Homo sapiens: one gene and its partners. The protein of the gene in region 1 interacts with the protein of each later gene in a biochemical or structural test. Each region holds a gene or a part of one and is shown in the gene's direction. Other genes may lie near its edges. The genes, in order: RHOBTB3, RAB9A and CUL3.

Evidence for each region.
Region 2: the proteins of RHOBTB3 (region 1) and RAB9A form a complex in vitro, tested with the Homo sapiens proteins (one study listed by BioGRID).
Region 3: the proteins of RHOBTB3 (region 1) and CUL3 form a complex in vitro, tested with the Homo sapiens proteins (one study listed by BioGRID).

What each region holds. Positions count from the first base shown.
Region 1 is NC_000005.10:95,788,871-95,796,861, forward strand, and holds the end of RHOBTB3 (rho-related BTB domain-containing protein 3), read left to right. Parts: intron 1-4,188; coding exon 4,189-4,304; 3' UTR 4,305-7,491; downstream 7,492-7,991. UniProt on the Homo sapiens protein: Rab9-regulated ATPase required for endosome to Golgi transport. Involved in transport vesicle docking at the Golgi complex, possibly by participating in release M6PRBP1/TIP47 from vesicles to permit their efficient docking and fusion at the Golgi.
Region 2 is NC_000023.11:13,691,414-13,699,878, forward strand, and holds part of RAB9A (ras-related protein Rab-9A), read left to right. Parts: intron 1-8,465. UniProt on the Homo sapiens protein: The small GTPases Rab are key regulators of intracellular membrane trafficking, from the formation of transport vesicles to their fusion with membranes.
Region 3 is NC_000002.12:224,497,424-224,505,888, reverse strand, and holds part of CUL3 (cullin-3), read left to right. Parts: intron 1-2,066; coding exon 2,067-2,237; intron 2,238-2,816; coding exon 2,817-2,924; intron 2,925-5,401; coding exon 5,402-5,526; intron 5,527-5,671; exon of another isoform or gene 5,672-6,709; intron 6,710-8,039; coding exon 8,040-8,136; intron 8,137-8,465. UniProt on the Homo sapiens protein: Core component of multiple cullin-RING-based BCR (BTB-CUL3-RBX1) E3 ubiquitin-protein ligase complexes which mediate the ubiquitination and subsequent proteasomal degradation of target proteins.

The sequences.
Region 1 (7,991 bases):
TTTCTGTTTTGAAAAGAAAACTTTATGTTCTTTGTTCTTAGATTTGAGACATAAGTTGTAGAAGTAGTACTTTTAGCAAAATAAGAATAGTCAATGTAATAAATTTCTTGTAAATTATGCAGTGTGGTAATTGAGGAAACAATTTATAGTCACCTGTGTTACATAAGTGCCTTAACCTGTGTTACACAAGAAGTTTTCTAATGATTATTTTATAGCTCCATCCGTTTTTAAATGCATTTTCTTTCCCTGAAATAGATAAGGTGACAAAATGTGTCCTCAGGTGACATTTGGTTGTGAAAAGTGATATCTTAGTTCTAACTACCTAAGTCAGCAGCAAAGTTTAAACAGTACAGATTTAAAAATTTTTTATAAAGGAATTTAACTCTTGTTAACTATATTATATTTAGCTTTATTGTACTGGATATCTGTATTTACTGAGTATACCTATATGGGAGTCCCTTATATTACTTTGGAATAACAGTTTTTCATATATAAAAAATGTTGTGAAACTTACTGGGAGTGTATGTAATATGCTTTCTAAGGTAAATTATAAAAATTAAAACCAAAGTGTGAACTACTGAGTACTGCATAAAAAGAAAAAAATGAAAATATAATAGTTGTCAGAATAGACAGTTTAGATGCAGTGGTTTGCTCATGTTATTATCTAGCATAGACTCAAGGAAAATTTGAGCTAAAAAGAAAAGGAAGTGAAAGATTACCTGATCAAGGAGTTTCACAATCTGGACAAATAAATCTCCGTGGAGATAACTGAAGTGTCTTCTAGGGTGGGGGACAGAAAGTAGGGAGTGGGTGAGGAGAAGGAGAGAGAGAGGGAGTAAGGGAAAGGGAAAGAGAAGGCTAAAATTTACAGTTCTTGGACTCTTCCCTCCCTCCTTCAGTCATAGTAGTTCCACTTTATCTGTTTCATATCTTGAGTTCTACCTAAAATTTTACTTCGTAAAAAAGACTCTGCTGGTAAAAGATATAAAAATCATATGGTCAAGATGGTGATTCCACCTCGGTGTAATCCCAGCCAACTTGGGAGGCTGAGGCTGAAGGATCACTTGAACCCAGGAGTTTGAGTCCAGCCTGAGCAACATAACGAGACTTCTGTCTCTAAAAGAAAAAAGAGTAAAAATCTCTTGTTTTTATTCAGCTACTTGTGCAGTTAAAGAAAACCCAGGAACACACAATCCGTTTTTGGGAGATGTATTCAGCCAGTCAACAAACATTATATGTCTATTAGGAGCCTCCTTATATAAGTCAACTATTAGTACAGTAGAGAAGCATAATCACATCAAAACAAAACAACAGTTATTTATTAGCTATGTACTTTGTGCAAGGAAAAAACAGTCAGTTCATAAAGATAAGGCTTGTGTATGCTTGCTGTCAGAAGGAACATTCTTCTATAGTTATTTAAGTAGCTGCTTCTATAGTTATTTAAGAAGCTTGCTAAAAGTTAAATGAATTGCACTTTGGTCCTGGAGCCAGTTTCATTATGTTACCTGAGGTCACTCTTATTTGTAAGAGAAGAATAAGATTATTTTCTACTTACTATCTTGTATAGATATATGGTATATATGGAGTACTATTACAACCTTGGGAGAAGGATGGTCTATAAATCCTTTTAGTTATGAATTTTCATTATATGGTATTACCCAATTACCTATAAAGTATGTTATGACACCTGGCATGGTGCAAAGCAGGACTTCCAGTGCGATGTGAGGTGGCAGGCTAAGGAGGAAACGATGTGTCGATGTTGCCTTCTGTTCCTTTGATGGGAATTAAAAGGGAATCATGAGAACTCTCATTCTGCAGTGCCTCTTCCTGTCCAGGGTCCTGCTATGAGGTGTCATCCTCTTGGGCAGAGGAAAAAAGCGCCTTTTGGATAAGGGAGAATTTAATTGTCTAAATCAATAGTTACTAACTGGCCATCTATGGTTTAGGTGTAGCCTGCCAACGTGTTTTATTGGGACCCCACAGTTAAAAATATATAGTACTGGTATTTAAAAATAACCATATTTTGGCTTCTTTTGAAAAATTGGAAGATCTGGCTACCCCAGGCCCATCATCCTAGTGGCAACATGTGGCTTGGCGCTGACGGCCCACCTAAAGGAGCATGCCCTCTCCAGAGGGTCGCAGTCACTTCTCTCCAGTGCTTTACACCTGGCCCACTGCACATGGTCACCTGAAGTTGGGAAAGTTTCTTGTCACGGTCACTCTACAGCTTCCTTATAGAACTGTCCATCTTCAGCTTGAAAAGTTCTCAAATTATTATTGGAATTCTACAACTTGTTTTCTGTTGACTGAGAATTTTTCATTTTTAGAGGTGTTTAGAAATCAAAAAGTGAGACTGGAAAAGATGTCATGTCAGTACAGGCACAGATACATCAGAACCCAGTTAAATAGGTCATTAAGTATTAGATTTTTATATACTGGACTCATGAACACAAACAGCGGTGCACAGGAATATGTTACCCTTGGCATTTATGGATTCATTATTCTCGCAGTTTAATTTAGCTCGATATTATGTGTTCTGTGTTATGGGGTTTTGTTTGTTTTGTTTTGCTGGCTGCCAGAGCTCATCTCTAATAACTTTTCTCTGGTTTTTAATATTTACTGAGGGAGTAGTCTCATGTCACCTTTGCTTCCTCTTGAAACTTAGAGCTGAGCAGCTAGTTTGTATGGTCCTGCAGGCTGAATCAAGACCCTGTTAATCTGACTTATAATAGATGAGGTTAAACAGTAGATGGAGAATCAAGTAATTCTCCTGCCTCATCCTCCTCAGTAGCTGGGATTATAGGCATGTGCCGCCACACCCAGCTAATTTTTCTTTTCTTTTCTTTTTTTTTTTTAGTAGAGACGGGGTTTTGCCATGTTGGCCAGGCTGGTGTCAAACTCCTGACCTCAAATAATCCGCCCGCCTCGGCCTCCCAAAGTGGTGGGATTACAGACATGAGCCATCGTGCCTGGCCTCCAGCAAGGTCTTTATGATCTATATCTTGAGTCGACCTCCTATCTCATTCTGTAACCTAGAATGCCTAACTGTCTGGGAATGCAGCCCAGTAGGTTTCAGCCTCATTGTCCCCAGCCCCTATTCAAGATGCAGTTGCTCTAGTTCAAATGCCTCTGACAGTTGTGCTTCACCAAACCTAGAGAATGAACAAAGCGAAGGACCTGGAGTTCAAGAATGGAGGGATCCAACTCCAAGGCAGGAAGCAGGTCCAGAAAGCAGGCAGGGCAGCAGCAACAGGGAAGAACAGCTTATCTGATGACTGGCTGGGTGGGAAGCACAACTGAGAGGACTTGAAGGACTTTGGAAGACTAAGTTAGCTACAAAGAAAACTAAGTATTATACCAAAAAAACTTATCCGGGCGTGGTGACAGGCGCCTGTAGTCCCAGCTACTCGGGAGGCTGAGGCAGGAGAATGGCGTGAACCCGGAAGGCAGAGCTTGCAGTGAGTCCAGATTGCGCCACTGCGCTCCAGCCTGGGCGACAGAGCAAGACTCCGTCTCAGAAAAAAAAAAAAAAGAAAAGAAAAGAAAAGAAAAGAAAAGAAAACTAAGTATTATAAATGGAAAAAAAAAATAAGTCCGTTATATCCAGGAAAAACAAAAGCTTTATTGGAAAAGAAAAGGAAGCCAGGCGTGGTGGCTCATGCCTGTAATCCTAGCACTTTGGGAGTCCAAGGCAGGCAGATCACGAGGTCAGGAGATCGAGACCATCCTGGCCAACAAGGTAAAACCCCGTCTCTACTAAAAATACAAAAAATTAGCTGGGCGTGGTGTCACACGCCTGTAGTCCCAACTACTCGGGAGGCTGAGGCAGGAGAATTGCTTGAACTGGGGAGGCAGAGGTTGCAGTGAGCTGAGATCACGCCACTGCACTCCAGCCTGGGCGACAGAATGAGACTCCATCTCAAAAAAAAAAAAAAAAGAAAAGGAAAATAATGAAATACTACTCGAAGTAGTGGACAAGATATATATAATTGTAAGTCACATAATAACTTAAATCCTGATACTAATTTAACCAAAATGGTAGTAAATTATTTGGGAAAACTTGTGGGAATGGTAGGAGATGTATCACAGAGCTGGATCTCATCTATTAAAGAGGAAATCAATAGCTGATATCTTAATTGATCCATAATAAAACATATTCGGTTAACAGTCTTTTTCTTAAAACTTCAGTGGAAGAACGCAGTTTTGTTGAAAAGCACAGATGGCCGTCGAATATGTACTTGAAGCAGCTTGCGGAATACAGGAAGTATATTCACTCCCGGAAATGTCGTTGCTTAGTAATGTAACCTGGAGCTTTTATACACTACATTTCTTTTTTATTATTATGAAGAATGGGATACCTCCAGGTTCCAGTAAAATTCTTCTGACCGAAACCAATGTGGGTGTTAGAAAAATTACCATATAGCTTAATATGTTTATTAGTTCTCTTTGGAAAAAAACTACCACTGTGGTCTTAAAAGGGAACAAAATATACCATAGGCTAAAACTAAGGCTTTCACTCTAGAATGCAAAGCTGTTTTGCAGCTGTTTTCCCTTAAAGATGTCCTGTTGCTTTAGTGATATTTAGACCCCTCTCAGTTAAGAAATGCTTAGATTAAAAAAAAAAAATTACGTAGGATTAATACAGAAATTTAATCATGTCTGATTAATTGCTCTATTAAAATAAGGGGCATTTAAAGACCCAGCATAACCATTTGTATAATGAGAAATCTAGGGGAAAACCAATCAGTCCAACATGAGATTTTAGGAATAGAAATTTGCCGGCCATTTGGAAAGTGAAATGCCACTTAGTTCTCAATTGATGACAGTGTTTGAATCATCATAAAAAAAATACCTGCTTTTCATCTGGACAACCCAATTGAGCCACTTTATCTCCTTTTGGCAATCTGAGTAGGCGGGGAACCTAGGCAGGGCTGGCTTTCTTAGCGTGTAACTTGTGTAGCAGCACAGGGCCCACACTTAGAAGGACCCCACACTTGGTTCAAGGCTCTGCTATAGCGGAAATTCTTAATAATGTTTGAAGAAGGGCCCCATGATTTCATTTTGTGCTGAGCCCTCAAAATTATGTCTGTTTCGTGGTGGGAAATATCCTATGTTTTCTTGCTCAAACACCTTTCTCTCTGAAAGCAGAAAAAGGCACTGATATAAAGGGAAGAGAAGGAGGCTCACCGGAGGGAAGAGAACATAGTGAAGATTCCCGCCTTTGGGGAGGTCTGGACCACCCAGGGCCTCCACTGCCACCTTGGCTGGCAAGGGAGAAATGTGTTGTGTTGTCTTAGCTTTAAAACAGTCACAGTTCTTGCTCTATCATAGATGAACAAATACTTTCTTGATCATTCTGTAAGACCAGGAGGTTGGTAAGAGTGACTAACCAGCCTAACTTTAATACACATGTATAAAGATGTTCACAGAGAAAGATGCTCTGTAGAGAATTTGCTACCGAAGTTGGCTCAAGAATTTGTTTTTAGTGTTATTTACCAAGATTAGGACGTCAGTGGCTTAAATTCTTTGAATTCTTTTCAAGGACTGCAAGATTATTTGATAAAGAGTAGCATGAATCTTGTGCTCTAATATTACACAGTAAGTTCAAAGAAAGGATGTAAGTCAAAGACTTGTTACATAGAGGGAAAATGGACTGGGATAGAGGACAGACTGATAGTTTCTTTCTTTCATATCACATGTATAGAGAAATAATTATATCAGAAACTCACAAACCTAGACATGGAAAAACAGATTACTGTCTATTGTCAGCATCATTTTCATCTGTAAGTCACTACTGGAATATATTTTTCTTTTAATTTCCAGTGACTTTAGAATACACACAGTTTTTCCGACTTTTCAAAAATTTGATTAAATGGTTTTATAGTATAATATTGGGACCCCATACCGTTAGCCCTTGTATGTATACCAACACTGCCAAAGTAAAACATTAGGTCAGGCATGGTGGCTCAGGCCTGTAATCCCAGCATTTTGGGAGGCTGAGGCAAGTGGATAACTTGAGGTCATGAGTTCGAAACCAGCCTGGCCAAAACAGTGAAACCCCGTCTCTACTAAAAATACAAAATTAGCCAGATGTGGTGGCGCACACCTGTAATCCCAGCTACTCAGGAAGCTGAGGCAGGAAAATCGCTTGAACCTGGGAGGTGGAAGTTGCAGTGAGCCGAGATCGCACCACTGCACTCCAGCCTGGGTGACAAGAGCGAAACTCCATCTCAAAAAAAAAAAAAAAACCAAAGTGAAACACTAAAAATTCCCTATAGATATATTCCAGGAAATATTTTAATTGGGCTGATTTTAATTAGGCTGTATCATTGATGATTACTGGAATCGATTTTATGTCTTTTGTATTTTAATCACTTGAGTTAATCAACCACTGGCAAATCCCATTTGACAAAGATTAGCATTGTAAAAAACAGATACTGTGGTAGATTTCTAGAAATTCATTCACATTTAAGACTTCTAAAATGGAATAATAGCCTTTTGTTTTTCATGAGCATATTCGCACCCCTATATGAATTACAGCATTTAAAGTTCAAAATCAGTAACTTTTAATCTAGGAAATTGAAAAATATTAAGTTGCAAAGCAAAAAAAGGTATTTTCTTGAAAATACTATTTAATGTTTAACTAGACTATAGGTAGTTCCTTAAGGTTGTTTGACCTGAAGTGGAGTTGGGTTTGGAAGCTGGTGCCCAGTTGGTGTGGAGTGTGTAGTTTTGTTATGAAAGTTCTCTACCACCTACCTGTGTGAGTGACACCAACATCCAGATGTCACAGCTCTCCAGAGCTAGTCAGAAGAGAAATCAAATTAGTGTTTAAACCCATTTGCATATTGACTTGTCAGTACCTTTAACTCAATTTAATATAACAAGAAATCGTAAAATACTTATAACCTATCTTAGAGAAATGAGTGCTGGTTTTGAGAGTTGTTTTTTAACTGAAAGATTATTTCTAGATGGGTAGTGCTTTGTGCTGGTTTCTGCTTCCATATATTTCCCAGTCATTTTAATTAGAGAAGATACTCTATGGTAGAACTAAGGCCTTTCCTTTCTTGGCCAAAGTCTTTACCCTATTTAACCCTTTGTATATTTCTGACTGCTCACTGTTCATATTATAGGGGACCAGATTTGTAATATAGAATTCTCCATAACATGAATGAAATTAATTCTGTCCAAGCCAGCATGGTGGCTTCATATTAAGTAGTAACAGAAGTCTGAACAATTGGATAAATTTGACTTCCAAGACAGCTAAACTTTTCAACTGCAATTTTAAAAACTACACTACACTGTTATAGTTAATCTGACAAAAATGTCCTCAAAGAGTACTTTATTTTATTTAAAGCATCTGTTTAATTCAACCTTTAATAATTTTGCAAAGAAGGGTATGTGTGTATTTTAATATAGCCTGACCTGAATTTATATGTTTTTAGCTTTAGTATTTAACTTTTTGTAACAAATAAACCTTTTTTAAAACAAGTTTAACGAAGTGTCCTGTAATTATTTTACCTTGGATGTTGAAATACTGAAATGATTTGGAGAATGCTGCCTTGTATTTCTCAAGCATAATTATGCTTCATAGATAATTTTCATTATGTGTAAAATATCTAGAATGTTGCTGATACTATAGCTGACTAATATGTGTGGTGAGATAAAGAAATTTATATTATCTTTAAAAGTCAAGACCAGAATTTATCTCAGCAAAATAACTGCCTTTATTTAGAAAAATGCTTTGATAATTAAACATAGAAGTGAGCCCCTTGTAGGCTTGAGTGTTGTCTGGGACCAAGGCTTGGGAAGTGGAGAAGCTGCTCTGATAATAGATGGAAAAGAATTTGGAACTTCCCAGGGCTGAGGAGCCCAGGTAGGGAGGGGAAAGAGACAAGGCAGCCATACCATGAGAATGGATGGTGCATGGAATGATGCAGTCCCTCCCCAGCAGGTTCCCAAATTTTCAGTAAAGCCTACTAAACTCATGA
Region 2 (8,465 bases), on another chromosome or scaffold:
CACTTTGGGAGGCCGAGGTGGGCGGATCACGAGGTCAGGAGTTTGAAACCAGCCTGGCCAACATGGTGAAACTCCGTTTCTACTAAAAATACAAAAATTAGCCAGGCGTGGTGGCGGATGCCCGTAATCCCAGCTACTCAGGAGGCTGAGGCAGGAGAATCGCTTGAACCTGGGAGGCAGAGGTTGCAGTGAGCCGAGATCACGCCATTGCGCTCCAGCCTGGGCAACAGAATGAGACTCCATCTCAAAAAAAAAAAAAAAAAAAAAAAAAAAAGACCAAATAATTTCTGGTAGCAGAATCTGTTTTTTGTTGTAAGGCAAAAATGACAAAAAGAACTTTAGAGCTATTCAGAGCCATTAAAGTGGACTTAGAAAGTTTAGTTTCTGCATTATTTCAGTTGTCTGAGCAGCCTGTGGGGCACTGATACAAAGGTGCTGATGAGAAGGGCGGTGGGGAGTCCCAACCTTCCTGAAGCTTACAGTCCAATCACAGTCATAAGATTAGGTTCTGACATCATCCTAGAACAGAATTTATTGCCTGGGCTACTCAAGGACAGGGGCCAGGTGTTCATTAAAAAAAAGCAAAACAGGAAAAAAAAGCAAAACAGGCTGAGTGTGGTGGCTCATGCCTGTAATCTCAGCGCTTTGGGAGACCCACACAGGAGGATCACTTGAGCCCAGAAGTTTGAGACCAGCCTGGGCAACATAGTGAGACCCCCGTCTCTACAAAAAATAAATTAAAAAAAAAATTAGCCTAGCTCAGTGTGGTGGTGCATGTCCCAGCTACTCTGGAGGCTGAGGCAGAAGGACGACTTGAGCCCTGGAGTTCAAGGCTGCAGTGAGTCATGATCACACCACTGCATTCCAGCCTGGGCGATAGAGTGAGACCTTGTCGCTAAAAAAATAACAATAATTAAAGAAAACAACTCCACACTCGGCACAGAAGTACCTGTGTCATGGTGTTTACTGTGGGCAGACTTAAATAAAATGGGGAAAACTTGATGTGTGTGTTATAGTTTTGTACGGTTAACCACGTGTGAATATTTACAAGAATCAAATTGAGAAGCCATTCTTGTTGAGCATAAAATTCATCCTTAAATTTCACCTCACCAGACAAATAGTTATGCCTGCATTTTATCACTGGAATCGAGAAAGAAATGATGAATTTTTTAATGGCTTTTCCATAACTTTCTGGTGTTTTCTGGTCTCTTTTTCATGCCTGTCTAAGATCAGGCCTTTCAAAATATGTACTGCTTCATTCTGGTGGCAGTATTAACTGTTAGGTGAACTTTGGGAGGGAGTGGTTGACTGGAGCAGTCAAAAAGGATCGCATCTCTTTTTAGGCATCACTGAGTGTTATTCACGCAATCAACATGGCATCTTTTTGTCGGTAGCTTTGGTTTTTGACTCATGCCAATGCACAGCACGTTCTTTGCTGATGAATAGATTTCTCTGCCTCTTATCAGGAGTTGTCTGCTGTGGGGTAGGGAGGATGTTGAGTTACACACCTCAAAATGATTGCTAGTGCATACACATGGAATCTAACAAAAGTGACGTGTTTTATTCTGGGAAAGGTCGAGATAAATTGGTGCTAGAGTTGTCTTGTTTGATCATTAATTGGCTTGCTCCTCCAGCCAACTTAGGTCACCACATTTCCTTCTGGGTAAAATGAGATGGCTGTGCTTCATAATCTCTAGGAGATTATATGTCACAAAGTAGAGGCAGCAAATTATTAGCTTCCAAGTAGTTCTGCCCAGGCAATGTGTTAAGCAGCAGGAGGAGGAAGTAAGCCAAATGGAAGTGTGTGTGTGTTTGGGCAACGCATCTAACTTGAAAGGTGTATAGATAATAGACTCTTCAGTCAGAACCAAGCATAAGAGAATAGGATTTGTGACTAAGTAGGCCATCAACAGAGAACATTTATTAAGGACTTTTTTGTAGAGGAGTGAGGGTGAACTCAAAAAATGTTTCAGGGAGTTTGGTGGAAAGCTATGATGCAATTGGAAGGCGAGGATGCCTGAGGGAGGAGACGTGGAGCCACCTAGGTGTGTAGGCAGAGGGGAGGGAGGTCGGAGGCGGTCCCAGGCCGTGTTGCCAGAGAGCCCAGGGGTGCCAGGGCTAGTTAGATAACTTGGAGGAGAAATCTCTGTTTCTCACCATGACTCTTGGTACTGTGCATGTTGTGAAGCTGTGTGCTCTGGGTATTTCCACATTCTGGATTTTTCAAATCCTTTTGTTAATTTTTGACCATGGTGAGTTCAGGCGTTGTTATTATGTTGCTTATTATGAATACAGTGAGGATGACTAGGTGTAAATGAATGTAAGGTAACAGCTAGATCTGCCTGAGGTGGAGAGAGACTGGGTGTGTATTTTGGAAAAAAAATGGAGAAGTGAAACAGGCTGTTCAGGCTTCACATTCTGGCTGCATGGAAGCCAGCTCATTGCATTCTCCAGGAGTTCTCTGGGAGTCTGTGGACACAGACTCCACTTTTGTCTTAGGCCTGACTCGTACAAACATATTCTGTTGTTTGACAGGGGATGGAGAAACACTATAGAACAACTGGACACATTCATTTCATTGCCACATTCTTTATTCAAGTGTGACAGAGAGCAAAACAGTATAAAGGAGTTGAACTGACTACTGTATTTTAATTTCAAGTTCCTGTGAATTGGATTAGATTTTTGGGTACAGAAGCTAAGGTAATTTCCAAAAGGTTAGTGCCCATAAGACTGTCTATGTTCTCAGAGTTAGAAAAACCTGGGAAAAAAAAAAGCCTTACAGACCTCTGTTTCTACAACTTGCTGTGCAGAACTCTAACAGATAGGAGTGTTTATGCAGCTAGGTGACTGCTCTGGTCTGTGCAGTTTCACACCTGTGTATTTGATCAGATGTATATACCTGGAAATACATACATAATGTGGTTGGAAGTCAGATTAGAACTGCCTGAGGACTACCCATTGGTGAATGCAGAACATTCTTTGGAATGAGTGCTAGTATTCTTAAATAACATTTAAAAATAGTTGTTTGGGAGCAAACAGTTGCCACCCTCATAATCCACTTTAATTTGTGCCCAGTACTTGATTTTTATCACAGCAGTCCTGGAAAACCTAGCTTCATGAAGATATGATGTCATCGAAAGGAATGCAGTGCAATCTAATTAACTCCCCTCCAGTGGGGTGCCCTACAAATGTCAAGTATCTATGTTTCCCTCAGAAATTTAAAATAGCCCACCCTGCCCTTGTGAATTTGCCGTGATGCTTTGGGGCACCTCAGCATGCAGTTTGGGAACCTCAGGATTAGAAGTTGGTATTATTGGCTCTAGTTTATGGACTACAAGGTATAGTGGTGAGGAGAAAAGGCATCAAAGTCCGTTTTTAATTCTCCATCCCCCCTTCCAGTATCTGTAAGCTTTTCCCTTGGGCCCCTCATTTCCCCCAGAGCTTTGCAGTTTTGGGATGCTACCCTTTTAGTTGCTAAGCTGAGGGGAGGGACAGACAGGAAAGAGACTGCAGTTCAGGTTTCCTGTGCAAATCGTCCCTCCAGCTCCACTTTCCTTTGTGCTTTCTCTCCATTTTCTGCTGGGTGCAATTCCTTAGGAAGTGGGTCTGCTAGGGTAGCACAGGGATGTGGGTCATGGAATCTACAGCCTTTCAGGGACCCCTCGAGCCTCCGGACCCGGCCTGTCTGGAGAAGTCTCGAGAAGTGCCCGTGTGCTGTTCAGTTCTTTTCCAGTTCTCTGGTGGGAATCAGCTTTCTCATTGTTGGCTGCTGCTTTCCGCATTAGGTTTCATTGTCTCTTCACTCTGTCACTCCCGGACCATTTGCTTTCCACTTTCTAAATTTTGTTGCTGTCTTGCATCTACAGTTGTTCTTTCTTGGTGTCCTTTTTGGATTTGTACCTTACGTAGACCTTTTCTGTCACTGGGTGGGAGTGAAGATAACACATACTTGACCTGCCCTATTTAGTTAGACCTGGGGAAGTTTGTGGACTTCTGTTTATTGATCTATAAAACATGGATGATAGTGTCCAACTTGCAGGTAATTTTAAGGTGCTATATGCCAGGTACCTAGTAGATATTCAGTTAATAGTGGCTGCTAATATAATTACAGCCATAGCATTTATTATTTGAGCAAGCAAGGCAATAGCAATAGGTAGTGCGAAAAGTGGACATATTTCATGTGTGGCTGAATGAAGTGCGTAAGAGAAAAGAAAGAGATTTTCGAAATGGAGAAAATAATTAGCTCAGTTTTAGATATGTTGAATTTGAACTACCATCAGGGTACCAGATGAACATACTATACAAGGGGTTGCAAATTCTTGTCTGGCTCAGACATGCGGATGTAGACTTTAGGAATCACTGGTTTTTATAGCCCAGGGAGATACCATCTGGAAACAGGTAAGGGTTTCAGTCTCGTGAAATAGCTTCATGAAGAGCTTGTCAGGAAAGGGAGCTGTCTATGTTGAAGAAAGCTAAGGGGCCAAGGAGGAGAGAAAGCAGAACCTATTATCAGAGTGGTTTTATGGACAATTAGGAAACATTTTCAAGAGGATTACTGCCAGGCTGTTTGGACCTGATAGAAGCAGTAATGGGTGGTAAGTCCTGGCTCAGACTTGAAGGTCTCCCCTGTGCCTCTAGCTAGATGTGTGATCCTGTGTAAGACACTTTCCCAGTTAGACCTGTTTCCTTATTTGTTTTTAAAAAACACTTGAGGCCAGGCACGGTGGCTCACACCTGTAATCCTAGCACTTTGGGAGGCCAAGGAGGGAGGCTTGCTTGAGCCCAGGAGTTCAAGACCAGCCTGGGCAAGATGGTGAAACCTTGTCATTACAAAAAAAAAAAAAAAATTAAAAAAAAAATTAGCCAGTCTTGGTGGTATGCACCTGTAGTCCCAGCTACTCTGGAGGCTGAAATGGGAGGATCACTTGAGCCCGGGAGTTTGAGGCTGCAGTGAGCTATGATCATGCCACTGCCCTCCAGCCTGGGTGGTAGAGAAAGACTCTGTCTTTTAAAAAAAGAAAAAAGACTTGGGTACCCTTCCAAGATTTTAGTTCATGCACATTCAGACAGATGGCTACACCTGAGAGAATTCACTATATACTAGCTGGGCCTCAGGTGGAGATGCTGGTCAAACTTGCAGGTGTTTTCTAGAAACATACACAATGAAGTCCTGAGAGAAGAACTTTTCCCTGTATTCACCTTAGGGTTGTATGTGCCGTAGGGCATTCAGATGAGGACTGAGAAAAAGCCATTGGATTGGCCATTAGGAGGTCTTTGGTGACTTTTGCTGACAATCAGGGGGAAAGGATGGGGTGGGAGCCCTGGTGTCCTATAAACTGAGCAGAGAGTTAATCAGGTTTGCAGGCACATTGAGAAATGGGTAGTGATGGGCAGAGTGAGGTTGGGCTTGGAAAGCTTTTTGTGAGAAAAGTCAGTTTCAACACTTCGATAGGGGCAGACCTGGGGGGATCATTGACAAAGTGACAGTTACATTGGATAAACTGAACTTGATGAAGAGCTGCCTGCAGTGTTGAGCTGGTGACAACTTCCCTGCAGAGTGGTATTTGGGAGCCTCTAGTCTAGTCGAGTCCTATATACCGGACATAGCTGCCCCTCTTTAAATATATCTTCTTAGGAAATCCTCACTCCTTGTAATTAACTTCTCTAACAGTCGAGAAGTTTCCTTTTGCTGTGGCTCCATGCCTTGTGGAGCCCCTCACTCAGTGAGTTTGTATAGTTCCCCAACCCCTAGCTTTGTCTGCTGTAAATTAAAGACATTTGGTTTCTTATCGAACTGGAAGGGAGGCCTCAGAACCAATGTTTCTTTAGGTGATAGCAGAACGTTGCAGATCATTTTTGATTTGTGTTTTGCTGCTTTAATATATTTTTCTGACATATATGTTCAAATTCATTCCTTTCATAATTTGTTTTTCTTCCTGAAATATCTACCTTTAATTCCCCATGTTCTCATCTTGTGACTTTTATCTATGTCTTTGCATTTTAATTCTGTCTTCCAAAGTGCACTCTATTGTCAAAAAGTATTGTAAGTACCTTTTACAGGTAAGTGTCATCGCAGGTAGATTTATGCTTGGTTCTTAAAACTTAAGCAAAACAAAAAAAAATTATTCTCACTTCTCAGGACTAGCAGTTTCCCATGAGTAAGGCTGTTCACTGAACTATCACAGTTTATGGTCAAAGTGTGATATTCATAAAAGTCTCATGGGTGAGGGAGAAAAAGAGGAAATTCTGCTAAAGACAGAAACTCTTGAAGGGTGTTATGAGCTACAGAAATGGATCACACATAACATACAAATGATGCAGGCATGTAGCAATCAGTTCTTGGTGTCCAAACTCCTTAAGATCTGATGAAACATTTTTTGTTCTTTCCAGAAAAAAAGCGCAAGCACACAAGCTTCCACCAATGCTCTCATCCTTATTTCACATGTGATTCTAGGGAGTGTATTTTCTCCCTGAAGCTCATTTCATGGACTCCCAATTAACCACACTCTAGGCCTGCACTGTCCAACACAGTTCCCACTAGCCTCATGTAGCAATTTAAACTAGTTAAAATTAAATGAAAAATTCAGTTCTTCAGTTAGACCAGCTACTTTCCAGTGCTCAGTAGCCACATGTGATTAGTGGCTACCATATTGGACAGTGCAGATTATAGAACATTGTCGTCATTGCAGAAGGGTCTGTTGGATTTTGCTGCACTATATAGTTTCATGATGGTTTAAGATTTAGTTCCTTAACTAAGTCTTCTTTTTCTTTTTTTTCTTTTTTTTTTTTTTTTTTTTTTTGGCCCTTCTCACTTCCTCCTTTCCCACTCCCCCCACCACTGTTAGTGATTAGTTAACATACCTACAGAGGTGCCTTGTTTTAAGAAAAATGTTAACATATTTCTTAAAAGTTAAGTTAGCTGATTCAGCTTCAAAAAAAGTTACTTAATTGAAATAAGTTCTTTCAATAGGGGAGGTGCTCTGACATAGCGATAGTATGGTTTGATAATACAGTTTTTCTCCTCTAGCTGCCTCCTGTTCTTGAGGTAATGCTCAGTGATTAACTAGATAGGACTAGATAATTTATTTCACCTTGGCAGGTCTTGCCTCCAAGTTGGCCTATTCCTATGGTATTTCCTTTTCTTTCTTTTGCTTCTTCCTGCACACTAAGTATGGTATTTTCTGACAGTATTTTTCTTAATTCTTTATTTATTTTTCTTGGTAATTTCTTGCTGTAGAGCTGGTACCCATTAGACATAATGACTTTCCTTGACTTGCTTCTTGCTCATAAATTTCTGTAAGACAATCAGGAAGTTTTTAGAAACAAACAGTGGAACCAATTAGGCTGTTAAGTGAGACACGCCTAAATTAAGCTATGAGGAAATAAATACAGCTCCAGCAAAAATAGAAATAATTTTCAGATTATCCATGCTTTTGTTTCCCTGGTTTTCTTTGAACCTCATTTCCTCAAGCTATGAAGTGAAATGAAGTGGTAAGTACACCTCTAAGTAGGACATTCAGGGTGAATCCAAAGGAACTTGTGAATTTGACCAAAAAAAAAAAAAAAATCTGTTCCTAAATTTAAACCAGGAGTGATAAATTCATTTTAAGTTTTTGGAGGGGTTACAGAGTATGTGTTTTAAAATCTCAAGTTTTGAGAAGGCAGTTTACAAATGATGCCTGCTCTCCCTTTGGCAGCTTATTAAGGAATGTAGTCGTTTTTCAGCATTTGCCAGCTCCCTGTCGCAGTCAGTCAATAGTACTTATTTTAAAGTGGGATTCTCATTGGGATTGCAAGTAAGAATCAATGTTTTTGTTCCTACCCACACATTTTAATAGACCTCAAAAATAGAATGCGGGGAGAACTGATAGAGAAACAAAGAATTTTAGGTACAGAAAGCACAAATAGAATAATAATAGAATAACAAGAATAAAAGAGGAAGTAATATACTCTTCGTTCTCAATGTAGCATTTATTTGCACCTCACCAAATGTAGAGCATTGTACGAGAAGTGGCAGAACAAAAAAGGGACAAGTGAATGGATGCAATTAGGTGTTGTGTGTCCCTCCCAGGGAGTTGACATTGTAATTAGGAAACAGACACATACACAACTGAAGGTGATTAGAGCATAAGTAAATGAGAGCTGTAAAGAGGTGGAAATGATGAGAGCAAAGAAAAGAGAAAGATTAGGTTGCTGGGGCGGTCCTGGCTTCCTACATGAGGTAATCTGGACTAGGCTTCTGATGACTAAGATTGTCATAGCTGTCGAAGTAGGGAGGGGCCTCCCAGGCCAAAGTAACAGCCCGAGCAAAGATATGGACAGAAAATGCCAGTGATAGGTGCGGGGATGGTGAGTAGTAGGGATATAATTGGGACAGGCTTGTAACTGACATTGAATAGCTCTTTGAATGCCATGCTCAAAATCCTGTATAATAAAAATAATAAATAAATGAATTTAGTTATCTG
Region 3 (8,465 bases), on another chromosome or scaffold:
AGGACATTTCACAGATAAAAATTAAGCATGACCCATTGCTGTGCTTAAATGGGTGCCATGGTCTATTAAAAAATATTGTTTGAAATACTTGACATGCCCAAACGTAGTTAGACATTTCACTTAATGTGTAATTGGCTTCAAAAACAAGCAACTGGATGGGCTTGGTGGCTCATGCCTATAATCCCAGCATTTGGGGAGGCCAAGACAGGAGGCTCTCTTGAGGCCAGGAGTTTGAAATTAGCCTTGTTAACTTAGTGAGACTCCATCTCTACAAAAAAAAAGAAAAAAGAAAAAAATTAGTGGCACACAGTGGTATACACCTGTTGTCCCAGAAGCTGAGGCAGAGGATCACTTGAGCTCAGGAGTTCAAGGCTGCAGTGAGCTGTGATCGCGTGACTGCACTCTATGCTGGGCGACAGAGCAAGACCTTGTCTCAAAAAAACTGAACAACTGTCCAGGTATGGTGGCTCATGCCTGTAATCTCAGCACTTTGGGAGGCCGAGGTGGGCAGACCACCTGAGGTTGGGAGTTTGAGACCAGCCTGACCAACTTGGTGAAACCCCATCTCTACTAAAAATACAAAATTAGCTGGGCATGGTGGTGGATGCCTGTAATCCCAGCTACTCAGGAGGCTGAGGCAGGAGAATCACTTGAACCCAGGAGGCGGAGGTTGCAGTGAGCCAAGATGACGCCACTGCACTCCAGCTGGGGCAACAATAGCGAAACTCCGTCTCAAAAAAAAAAAAAAAACTGAACAACTACACAGCTGTAGTTGGTAAACAGTCATTTTTATGACTGAGAGTTAGGCATGCTGAAGATAAAGAACTAGAAAACTTTCTAGTAGAGAGTGTTGTTTGCTCTCATCTGGTTCTGAAGGTTATATGTCAAACAATAATTGGATGCCAAGAATATTAAGGCATAGATAGAGTAGATCTCATCTCAGAAAATGGTTGGTGTAGCTCAATTTCAAGCCTTTGTGATATATGATATCTCTGGAACCTGAGGAGCTCACGACAGCATAGAAAATCAACTGAAGCATAAAACATGCTCACATCTGAATTGGTCTCTTTTGACTTCATTTTGGAATTTGTGACACCAAAGGGAAAAGCAACATGTCGTCACAGGTTTTACAGGCAGTAGCTGCAATAAGGGAACAAAATCACTAAGGTTGCACAGAATAGAAAAGTCTATTAATTTATGCATTCATTTGGTCTTCCGTTTTTCAAATATATTAATACAACCTGCCACAGAATCCTTTTGCCCTTATTTAAAAGTAAGGGCAGCCAGGCACAGTGGCTCACGCTTGTAATCCCAGCACTTTGGGAGGCAAAGGCGGCGGATCACCTGAGGTTGGGAGTTCAAGACCAGCCTGACCAATATGGAGGAAACCCATCTCTACTAAAAATACAAAATTAGCCGGGTGTGGTGGTGCATGTCTAATCCCAGCTACTCGGGAGGCTGAGGCAGGAGAATTGCTTGAACCCGGGAAGCAGAGGTTGCGGTGAGCCGAGATGGCGCCATTGCGCTCCAGCCTGGGCAACGAGTGAAACTCCGTCTCAAAAGAAAAAAAAAATAGAAATAAAAAAATAAAGTAAGGGCAATGGCCTTTTTACTGTTTGGATTATAACAAATTATTGCCTTTTGTTTGCACAGTTGAGGCTTTCAGTGAGCTTAAATGAAAAATTCCGTCTTTTGGCTGTGTAAGTTTTTGCCTGCATATGCAAAGGCTTCATAAAATAATCTCTGTGACTAAAATTTCATTTCATCTGTTCTCAATCATCCCTTAACCCAGCGCTATATTACCTTATGCCTCCAATTCAGTGGTAGCCCTCTACGGAATAGAATTCCACTCCAACCCCTCATTCATGATGCACTAAATGAGAATGTAAGAATGATGCTACTGTGTGAAGTAGGAGACACTTTCTCAAACCGTATCCCTTTTTTTGATGTATGTCAACCAGATATCTATGTTTTCAAACAATAGTGTTTTTAAGCTGTAAATGAACCGTAGTACTGCTTTTGTAGAACTAAAATTGTATAATTGTTACATCATCTTAATTTTGCAGCTAACAGAACAAGAAGTAGAAACAATATTGGATAAAGCAATGGTCCTTTTTAGGTTTATGCAAGAAAAAGATGTATTTGAACGTTATTATAAACAACACTTGGCAAGGAGACTTCTCACAAATAAAAGTGTTTCTGATGACTCTGAAAAAAACATGATATCTAAGTTAAAGGTAAGGTGTGTTTTAGATGAAATAGAGTGCACCTAACTGAGGTTTATTATGATTGTGTACTGACAACGTGATTGGAAATTAATTTGGTAGATTATTAAGTGTTTATTTCTAGAAATAAAGGTAGATTGTTTTGGAGAAGAACACAGACTACACTAACATTTGTTCAAGTTCAGGGACATTCAGAGTTTGCTGGAATTTCTGTTGGTGTGTCAGGATACATTCATGGAGGCCTGGAAGGGAGGATTAGTAAAAGGGAAACAATAAAGAGGCTATGCTGTGTAGTTCTTTTTCACAAAGTGTGGTCCATAGAATACTTGCACGTGAATCACCTGAGATGCTAGTTAAAAACAGTTCTGGGCCCTGCCTTTCATGGGGGTATATTGGAATCTCTGAAAGAATCTGGGAATTTGCATTTTAAAATCCTAAAGTTTGATAACCACAGGCACAGAGCAACTGTTGGAAAAATTTACAGGAAGATTATCAGGGATAGCAATAACATGAAATAATTTATTTCTTTCTGTACTTTCTCATAGAAACATCTACCATTTATTTGTGTATATTTGTGTTTTTCCTCCACAGACTGAATGTGGATGTCAGTTCACGTCAAAACTGGAAGGAATGTTTAGGGATATGAGCATCTCAAACACAACGATGGATGAATTCAGGCAACATCTACAGGCAACTGGTGTAAGATTCTGCGTTAATTTCTACTTAGATATTCATGTAAAGTCTTTTGTAATGGGTATATTTTCATCCACTTAGCAGATGACAGTTGTTTCTTTAAATGTCATTAGTGACAACATGTGTTTTATCTGTGAGTACTTAATTTTCCTTCACATTGCCTCTTATTCTGTGTTTATGTTAAAACTTTTTATTCTTTTAAAATTTAGTTGTTTCTTCCCACTTGAAGGAATACACTGACAATTTAATAAAGAGAATTATTCTGTTGTTAATAAAGATAATACAAATCTATTATAAATTGTGGAAAGAGTACTGGGCTTAACACAAGTTTACTGAGTTTCAGTACTCTTCTTTTCACTTTACCCCAAGATTGTGTCATCTTGGGATAGTCACCTGACCTTCCTATACCTCACTACTATTATTCTCCTCTGTAAGTTTAGCTTAAATGGGACTTACATCCTAAGGGTGCGTAGCAGGTGAAGTGAGACTATAAAAACACAGAAATTAATGTATTATAAATGTGTTTGGTATAACTCCCCAAAGGTGGTGAGCTGGAACTTCTTTAGCTTTGGAGTCTGATGGGAGTTTTATGAGCATTTAATGAAATTCAGAATTTAGTTTCATTTTTTACTCTGATTTTCAACTTAACCTTAAGTTTAGAGAATTGTACAGTTTTTAAATTTTTAAAATCACCGTGTACCACTCTATGGTTAAAATGTGTCACAACCATTTAACAGATTTGTGAGTCTTTTCCTTTGGTATCTAAATATGAGATCATCACTTCTACTGGCCTTATAGTCTCGCAAACCAGATACGTGAAAATACGTAATTCTGTAGAATAACCATTCATTTCTATGAAAACATTCTGACTCTAATGTAAATAGTTGTATGATTTGCTTTATAAATATCAGTGTTTACAGTGGAGAAGAGCTGAGAGGAGGAAAGATGCAAGTCCATGACAGAAATTTCGGGTGGACAGGAAATAGTGGTGTAATTATCCTGGATTTTTATTTTTAGATTGTTTAGGAATTTATAGTTAAATCTAATATATTGATATATTTTCTTGTATTTTTTTGTTTGCTCTAGTAAGTTTTTAAATTTTTTTCTTCCACTAATCTTACACATTGAAAGCTATAGGGAAGATTGGGCTAGATCCCATGCATATTGATATGGGATGGATGGACTGTCCACTTTGTGACCCTCCCTTCCCCTAACCAACTTGCGAATGTATAAACAGTTCTCCACCTCCCCCAGTACACCATCTAAGAGTCTCCTCTATGATCCTCTCTTCTGTGCATCATCCAAGTTTATTTTCAGTTTCCTTAAAGTTAAGTAATCATTTAGTGGATACTTGTGAAGAAATCGGAGTGTAGAATGCTTCTTGATATTCATAAACTGATTCCTCCCCTTAAAAATTTACATTACTAAATCATTGAGGTAAGATAAAAATGGAATGATGGTTTATAACACATCCTGAATATCAATAATAGAAATAATATTTAATCTTTAAGAGTTTTTGTTGTGCCTTATTGTTGTTTACTTAAAAATTTAATTTGTTTAAAGGAAGAAAATAATTGTGACAGTTGATACTAGCATAGAAGTAGTTATTCATTGTACAGATATTTGTAGAGCACCTGCTCTGTAGCACTGGATCTATAGTGTTATAGCACTGGATCTGTATGCAGAGGTTGTTAGAATGTGAGCTACATGCTAAAACGTAAAAGTTTTAATTAACTGTAGTTGAAATAGGTGCTGGAATATTAGAAATATGTATTAAGATAGTAAAAATATTTTAAAACTGAGACGAAGGATATTATGCTAGAATTTTCTCTAAAATGATATAATTGACCCTCCTTGACCTTTTATTTAAAAAGGCCCAAACTTTTCAGTTCTCAGTGATAACAGTAAGACTTGATTTATGTGCCAAAAACTATTCTTTGGTCAGTGTTTTTAAATTAACATAATAAGCAATAATTAAGCTATTTGCCATGTAGTTAAAATTTGGGAAACACTGGGTGGGTCTAACCTTTAAGGAAATCTGTTTTTTTGCCGGGTGCGATGTCTCACGCCTATAGTCCCAGCACTTTGGGAGGCTGAGACGGGCAGATCATCTGAGGTCAGGAGTTCGAGACCAGCCTGACCAACATGGAGAAACCCCGTCTCTACTAAAAATACAAAATCAGCCAGGCGTGGTGGGCATGCCTGTAATCCCAGCTACTCGGGAAGCTGAGGCAGGAGAATCGTTTGAACCTGGGAGGCGGAGGTTGCAGTGAGCCGAGATCGTGCCATTGCATTCCGGCCTGGGCAACGAGCGAAACTCTGTCTCAAAAAAAAAAAAAAAAAGAAAAGAAAATCTGCTTTTTTTTAAATTAGATATTAGACATGGAGCTAACTGCTTTGGTAAATCTAACACAATGTCTAAACAGAACAGAAAGCAAATCCTAGTTAATTTTGAGGGGAATATCTCTTTCTGTTTTACATAGGTATCTTTAGGTGGTGTTGATCTTACAGTCCGGGTGCTCACGACAGGATATTGGCCCACTCAGTCAGCCACACCAAAGTGCAACATCCCACCAGCACCAAGACATGCTTTTGAGATATTCAGAAGGTAAATCAAAATCAGACTTTGTATCACTGTGTACAAGTAAGTGTTCAAAATTAAAAATGAATTTGAACATTAGTATCCGTAATTGAGGATGAATGTATTCCATTTATTACCTCGTGATCAAAAGGAGCATTTATCCTGGCATACAGCAATTTCCCCCTCTATAGGATCTTGATGAGTAAAGTAAAGCAGGCATAATTTATCTCTAGAAAGATTGTTTATATGCTGGCATTTGAAATGCCTTTTATTTAGAGCAGCAGTAAAAATGGAAAAAGAGAAAGTAAATGATGATGGAAAACTAGACCCAGAGAATTCCTTGGACTTTTCTGAACACTTCAGCTAACTCCAATTGTTGGAAATACGTGGATACCTTATTCCCACTAGTACTCAGAGTCTCTGAGATGGCAGTTTTGATGAGGAAGAGGAGCAAGATGAAAAAAAAACAAGAGTGATATGCAAGAAAAAAACAGAGAAAGATCCAAGCAAATATTTTTTTTGGGCTGCTGAAAATAATTGGCTTATCCAGTGTGGAGACTGCTTTGTGAAAAGACCACTCGTGTGAACACTAGGGATGAAGATGAGTGTATCACCCCCTTCATCGAGCAGCCTAAGGTGGACACTTAGACATTGTCTGTGAGCTGATTGCACAAGGGGCAGAAGTTTTTGCAGTGACCGTAGATAGCTGGACACCCCTGCAGGGTGCTTATAAGTGGAATAATACCAGAGTGGCTTCTTTATTTCTTCAGCATGGTGTAGATTAGTTATCAGTGACCAAACAAAAGGTCTCTTGACCCACTTGCATCTTGCTGCTGGGATCAGAGACAGCAGAGCTACTCTAGAACATCTACTGGTGAACTGTTAACCTCAAACCAGATCTGAAAAAACAACTGGGAAGAAACTGTATTTGATATTGCCAGGAGGACAAGTATCTGTCACGACCTCTTTGAAATTGTGGAAGGCACTGTACAAATTCTTCACCTTAGTCTTAATGATTCTAGTAATTGTCTTAAGTGTCCAAGTACCAGTGCCTTCTTTGTGTGAGATGTAAAATATTCCCATAGTAAAAGGTTGACATCAAACATCTTACTACAAAAAATTCATTGGTACTTATTAAGATGTTCTTCCAGGTGAATTGCCTGACCTTGATGTCAAAATGTATTTGAAAGTTGTTTGAATATATCTTGAATGATTTCTGTGGAGTTTGTGATTTGTATCAGAAATAATTTCGACTTGCCTACACTTAAAAACTTGACGTGGGTTGTACAGAAACTAAAGATATTTTTGGTGCTGATCCAGGAGATACGTATTTTTAAATAGCCCATATCCTGGATCTTTGTTGAGTATTCAGCATATTGACATGTATCTTTGTAAGGTGAAGTAACTAAGAATTTAACTTAAAAAGCCTCGAACATTCTGGTGCTATTCCTGCTGTCTTCTCTACATTACCATAGCCAGTTGCTTTCATTTTGAACCAGAAGCACTAGCATATTATTGACTTGTAGCTTCATAAATTAAAAAAATAAAAACTAGATTTTGTCTTTTAGAACATAGGCCATTTTCCAGGAAAGCAGCTAGGTTTTAATCCATTAATCTTGTATACTGTCTCCACCACCACAATTCACATAATCCTGTAGACAGTCCTGCTTCACCCTGGTCAACTGCATGATCCTTATTGTAATAGTGAATCAGTATAACACTTTAGACATGCACACAGATAACACGCTGTTGCAAGAGTTCATGATATGTCTGCTGTCCAACTAGTTTTATTTGCCTGATCCTACTGGTTTAGGCACTGCCTATAGTCTCGAGTTCACAGAAATGTTGGGTTTTTTCCCTCCCCAAAGTCCTCATTTTTTATAAACTGTAGAAAGGCAAAATGACAAGGGAAAAGGAATTCTAAGAGTGAAGGGATGATTGTTATATTGGGGCAAGAACCACAGAGTGGCTCAGGCTTTGGAAAAAATATGGTGTGGATAGTGACAAAAAACATAAATATAAAAATTCAAGAAAAACTACCAGTTTTGAACAACAAAAACAAAGGGAGAGTTTATCCTTTATAATTTTAATATGTAAGAAAAAATTACATAAACTTTTCCCAGAGGAATATTTTATAAATGTGCATTGAGTATTTTTCGTACTGTGGTATAGGAGTATATTTTGTACTGTTGATGTCTGCTACTGACTTAGAACAAATTGATTATTGGGTTACTATGGAGAAAGGTGGTCTTAAGAACAGCAAGGGCTGAGCAGCAGTAGGTTGGGGCAGAGTGTACAGTAGAAATTATTTAGTGTGGGGCCTTTGTCATTTAATATCTAGCTGAGTTACTTAGGACTCTCTCAAGGTCTTGCCTATAGAAAGTTGAAACTGAACTTGATTCCTAAAGTTTCCTTTAAGTTTTAAAGTCCATACACACACACACACACACACAAATGTTTAAGGGATGTTATCCTGTAGTTTGTAATTTCAAATGTGTAAGTTTGTTTGATTTTCTAAAACCTGGTTTGATTTACTGAAGGTTCTACTTAGCCAAACACAGTGGTCGACAGCTCACACTCCAGCATCATATGGGTTCTGCAGATCTCAATGCCACATTTTATGGACCAGTTAAAAAGGTAAATATTGATAGTTTGAACGTATTAAGTAACTTAAAGTTAGTCTATTAGAGCTGATGTGTGATTTATGTTGACCTGGGTAAATTACTTACTTCTGTTTCTCTGCCTGTCTCACATGTTAGAAAGGTTAAAAATCCTAGCTTTGATTTATTACTTCTGTTCTCTCAGTTGCTAACTGCACCTTTGAAAATATGAAGACTATACCAGTATAGTCTTCCCTAAGGACTAAACATTAGGATAATTACATATTTTATTCATAAAATTAGGTTTGAGAAAATATTGCATAAAATAGTAAAATGTAAGTTGATTTCAGTGCATACAAAGCCATG